Regions from separate parts of the Homo sapiens genome. Here region 2 is linked to region 1. A link means that fine-mapping ties the variant in region 1 to the expression of a gene that starts in the linked region. Tissue or cell type: aorta. Region 1 holds a variant in brackets; the other region holds the start of a gene. All regions are shown on one strand. Distances are from middle to middle.

Region 1 (2,677 bases):
TGGGATACAGAGCACCTTGGGCAGAGGAGTGGCCCCAGCAAAGACCTAGAGGCAGAAATGCACAGCTGTGGGGAGGGATGATTAGAATTCTTTTTTTCCTGAAAACATTTACTCTGCAAGAAAAGCGAAGGAATGGTGTTGTTGTTGTTGTTGTTGTTGTTTTTGAGAAGTTTTCAGGGAAAGTGATTGTTCTCAGTGCAAGGCCAGTATCAGCCATGGTGTAGAGATGGAGAGAGCACTCATGGAAAAGGGGGAGGTTAGGGGCTTGCCCAGAGCAGAACCAGAATTTTCCAGGGCTTGATAGAAGGAGCCGGTAGAGGAGGAAACGAGAACAGCACTGGCTGAGGAGTTGGGGTTGTGCAGGCTCAGGCTTTGGACACAAGATGAAAGCATGTAAGCATGTTATAAGGAAGGCACATTGTTAATATCATGCTAATGTTACCTACCCTTCCGGCTGAACAGAGCCTGTGGTGGTCTTGAACAGATTTTCATAGACTCTCAGATTGAGAGGAATGGAAAAGCTTTGTCTTTTTTTTTTTTTTTTTTTTTTTTTTGAGATAGGGTCTCACCTTGTCACCTAGGCTGGAGTGCAGCGCTGCGATCACAATTCACTGAAGCCTTGACCTCCCTGGGCTCAGGTGATCCTCGCACCCCAGCCTCCCAAGTAGCTGGGACTATAGGCAGACACCACCACGTCCTGCTAGTTTTTAAATTGTTTATAGAGACAGAGCTTCATCATGTTGCCGAGGCTGGTTTAAACTCCTGGACTCGAGCCGTCTGCCCACCTTTGCCTCACAAACTGTTGGGCTTACAGGCGTGAGCCACTGCACCTGACCTTTGCCACATTTTCGATCTGTATCATTTTGCTTTTCTTTGGGGGACTGCGCTCCCGTGTTCCTCTATGTGCCTCTACTGTAGCGTAACCATGCTGTGTTGAAATAATCTGTGTCTGTTTCCCCCAGCAACATTCTTAGCACCTCCAGGACAGAGACAGGACAGGATTGTGACATACAGCAAGAAAACAGCATTTCCAGGAGGGAGGGGTATCTAGGGAGAAGTGCCTGTCAGGAGATCCTTGGCAAGATGACAGTGTGTCCTGGAGGAAATGTGTTATTCCTCCCTTTGAAAGCCAGGGAGCAGGGTGCCTCCTCATGAGGAGGCCTAGCATGAACCTGACACTCAGAATATCTGTTCCCATGCGGGCAGGGGCTCCCTGGCCTTTGTGGCCCCCACTGAGGTTGTGTGTCTGCCCTCCGCAGCGCGAGCCCAGCATTGACCTGCTGCAGGCCTTCGTGGAGCACTGGAAGGGCATCACGCACTACTACATCGAGAGCACAGGTGCGGCCTGGCCCTCCCCAGCCCAGGGACCCTGGAGGGAGCGGGGAGGAAGGAGTGTGCAGAGTGTCACCATTCAGGTGTCCTGGGAAAGGTAACCTGCCCAGTCGTTCAGAATTGGAGCCGAGTTCACGGAGACAGAGAACCAGACAGACAGAAGACCCAGAGCCCTGGGCCA[C/T]TCCACTCCTGATGATTTAGCTGCCGGTCCCACTCTGACCTTTTGGAAAGAGGCTGTGTGAGGAAGGAGTAGCCTGGTTGGGGGTCTCACTGGCCTGACTCTGCAAGGAAGAGGTGGCTGCACTTCCCCCAGCTTCCAGCTCCAGACCTTCAGGCCCCAGGTGCTTGTGCCTAGGATTTAATGATCAAAAGAAAAGAATTTAATAAATTCCCCTTTCCCCTGAGCCAGCTTAGGGGCAATGTCCTTGTAGAGATCTGGGGTAGGAGGAGAACGAAAACCAAGGTGGGTAACATGCCTGGGTCCCTCTCTCCAAGCTGACACCCCAAAGAGCCAAAGCCTTGGCACCTGGTCCCATCAGGACCGCTCACTGAGGGGATGGCATCTGAGTGGCTGCTCTGCAGTCATGAGGCTGCCATGGGTGGATACGGACTGGTTGCCAGGTAACCATATCCTGCATCCCTCACTTTTCCCTTCCTGGAGTTCATACTGGGGCTTGATCCCAGCCCACACCTTTCCTACAGGCTTTCTTTCCAGCCCGGGCCAGCCCAGGAAATTCAGAAATCTGTGGGACCCTCTGAGGGTTCTGCTAGACCAGGTTTCTCAATCTTGGCACAGTTGGCATTGGACCTGGAGCCTTCCCTGCGCGGGGCTGTCCTGGGCGGTGTGGGATGTGCAGCAGTAATTCTGGCCTCTACCCACTAGGTGCCAGTAGCACACCCCACCCCCGAATTGGGACAACCAGGAAGGTCTCCAGACATTGCCTCATGTTCCCTGGGGGGGAAAAGCGCACCCCTGGTTCTGAACCTATCTCTTCAGGTTAAAGATCTCTTGAAGGAGAGCCTCAGTCCACCAGCTCAGTAAGATCAGATCAGAACTGGCTGAAATTCACCTGGGGCTTCCCCCATCCAGCCCTTTCATTTCCAGAATGGTCCCTAGACCAGAAGGGTTGGAAGTGCGTGGGGCAGGCCGCCCTACTCAAGCTCCTGTTCCTTAAAGGAAAGCTAGGGGGTGCTCCAAGTCTAGCCCTGAAGCACCAGAACTTTCTTTAAAACACACACTGAGACTCTGACTGCAAAAGCCCCCACTAAGTAGCTTCCCCGTCAGGGCGTTGGTACAGGGAGCAGGACTGGGTCAGACCTGAAGGTGGTGGCACAGATGTTTTTT
Region 2 (2,677 bases), 37 kb before region 1:
CTTCCTCCCTTCTCTCTGGAGCCCATCCCTCAGGTTACTGTCCTCTCTGTCCCCACCAGCCAGATACTTTCTGTCCCCTCCTGGCCTCTTCCCTCAAGCCCCTCCCCCTGTGCTTCTCCATTCAGACACCCCAGAGCCCCCTCCCCAGATTCTAGATTTCCCCAACAACAGCTGATACCATCAGCTGACCGGCTGGGGGCAGGGTTGCCAGGGCAACGGTGAGGGCTGCCTAGGTAGGCAAGTCTGCGGTGTGGAGGTGGAGAGGACATTGGGGCCAGGGCGAGGGTCGAGGGCAAGGCTTGTTGTCCTTCCCCATCCTGCCCAGGGGGCCCGAAAGGCCAATGAGAGGCTCCTGGGGTGGTTGAGGCTTTGCTAGAGACAGGGAAGGCACATGCCTGTAAATTCTGTGCTGGGACCCAGGGGTTACCAGGCAGGAAGCTCCTTTTTCATGAAGCCACCCTAGGGAGAGATGGGGTCCTTCTCTCTCTCTGCTGCATCCCATTGGAGTTCCCAGGGGATTCAGGTTACTGAGGGGCCAGCTCAAGTCTCAGTACTGAGGACCTGGTTGCATCCCTCCATTCTACCCTCCCAGGAGAGAGCTCATCCTTGGGTAACCAATTCTGGCCTGTGCCTGCACCCCCACCTCAAGAGGCTGGGCCCCAGAGGCCTCAGTTGCTGCTGTCAGATGGTGGGGTGGTCATGAATAGGGTAGGAGGTGCAGGTGCCTGGAGAAAGCAGGCATTGTCCGCCTGGGTCATCAGTAGCCCCCTCCCTCGACCCACCGCCCACAGCAACTTGAACTCTGGCTGTTTAGGAGGAGGCTGAGGGGCTCTGGGTGCGTGTGGGTGTGTGTGTGCGTGTGAGTGCTGCAGACTGCGGTGTGGGAAAGGGAGAGGACAGTGCTGGCTGATTCTGCTTTGTCATGACGCTGGGTTAATGCTCCTCTTGTTTGAAATGGATTGAGCTGCAGCGCTGGTGGAAGAGCGCGCACATCCACACACACACCCTTGCCAGCCACACGCTATCAGCTGGAAGTGGGGAGGGCGCGGGGAGGGCGTGGGGGAGCCAGCAGCCCGCCCGCCCTCCCGCCCCCAGACGAGGACTCCCCAGCACCGGGGGATCCAGGCGGCCGTGCGTTGCAGAGAAGCAGGGTGGGGGCAAGGAGGGTGGGGGCCCAGAGGGGAGATCAGACCGCTCAGCCGAGACCAGCTCCCCTCCTTCGCCAGCTCCCACCCCGCCCACCCACCCTAAGCCGGCATTTTTCCTGTTATTTGTGCTCCGGGGAAGCGCCGCGGGGTTCCTGGAAGAGACACCTATTACCTAGGCTCCTGGGGGAAGTGACAGCCCGTGGATCTGGCCTACGCCTCTCGGGCCTCTGTGGCCTCAGAGCGTCTGGGCCACACTGTCTGGGAAGAGGTAGGTGGCAGGGTCTCCGCCTCTCCTCCCCTCTGTGGGCACTCTGGGCCACAGCGCTTGCTGGCGAGCCAGGCTTTGGGTGGCAGCAGGGTATCTGGGGGGAGCCCACTGTGGGCCCTGTTCAGTGGGAGGATGGGCCGGCCCCTGGGACCAGCTGGGCCTGATCTAATGGAACCTTCTGATCTGGGGAAGAGGGCCTGGGGTGTTCTCATCCCAAGGATGAGAACTGCTCCCAGCCCAATCCCCTCTTTGCCAGCATCTCTGCCTGGCCTACCTAGCTGAGCAGGCCAGCAATGGAAGGGATGGACTGTGGGGGCACGGGGTGGGCAGGGGAGCATTCCCTCTCTGCTGAATACTGGCCCGCTGGCCTCCCCAAAACCACTCCACATGCTCTGGGGGTTGGAGCAGTACATTTAGGGGCCTGAGGCTGTTTGTTTGGAGCCTGCTTTTTAGGGGGAGTGGGAGGAGAGCCTGCCCCCAGCCAGTGGCTGGCCAGGCTGGGGTGGGGCTGAGTGAAGAGTGAGGCTGTGGCAGGGCGCAGCTGCAAGCCCAAGCCCAGTACTCCCCCTGTGCCCGCCGCTGGGGTGCTTGAAGGGGCCAGGGCTGAGCAGACATGCAGCCCCCACAGGGTTCTGGGGCTCCCCCTCCCTAGCTCTGTCCCTCAGGGCCTAGCAGGTCCAGCCCCCTTTCTTGGGCAGACACACCCAGTGTGTCCCTTCCAGGGACCAGTTGCCTGGTTGTGAGAGTCAGGGGAGCAGGGACAGGTCCAAGACAAGGAAGGCAGTTGGGCTGTGGGAATGGGGAGCCCAGGGAAGGCCTCCAGAGCTGGGTAAGTGGAGGGCTCTGTGTATGTTGCTGTACACGTGCACTACTCTGGGATGGATGCCAGGGAGAGGACCGGTGGGTGGGTGTGAGCGGGTGTTGGCAGCACCATGTGTCACAGTGAGGGGGCCTCGATGGGAGAGTGGGGGCATGAGCTGGCACACAGGGCTTCGGAGTCTCCCCGCGTGCATGCGTCCTGCAACGGTTTCAGCGCGGGCGCTTCTGCCTGTGCCCACCTGTCCATCTTGTGTCCGTGCTGCCGGCCTCTCTGTGGTCAGGCGTTAGACTCCTGGGTGAGGTTGTCCACCCGTGGGTGGATGTCTGCAGAATCCCTCTCCTAGAGCTCCTGGGTGTTGTGGGACTGGAACAGGGAGGCCCTGGGATCCAGAAAGCTGAATTGAGGCTGCATCTCCCCCAGCTCTGCCAGTCCCACTTGTAC

What was found. PIP is the estimated chance that this variant, and not a neighbour inherited with it, causes the effect.
Region 2: it holds the start of DMTN, and the variant in region 1 is fine-mapped to the expression of DMTN in aorta (GTEx, PIP above 0.99). The same link has a PIP of 0.9 or more in atrial appendage.

Annotation. Positions count from the first base shown.
Region 1 is chr8:22,093,181-22,095,857 of GRCh38, forward strand. It overlaps FHIP2B (FHF complex subunit HOOK interacting protein 2B), which reads left to right. Exons shown (of 17, transcript NM_022749.7): 2 at 1,260-1,338. Among named protein-coding and RNA genes, the nearest start is that of FHIP2B, 5.4 kb to the left of the region's middle. RefSeq lists an enhancer at 835-1,335. The variant C/T (reference allele first, on the strand shown) is at 1,514.
Region 2 is chr8:22,055,721-22,058,397 of GRCh38, forward strand. DMTN (dematin actin binding protein) reads left to right here and starts at 1,094. Exons shown (of 16, transcript NM_001387751.1): 1 at 1,094-1,416. RefSeq lists an enhancer at 2,212-2,677.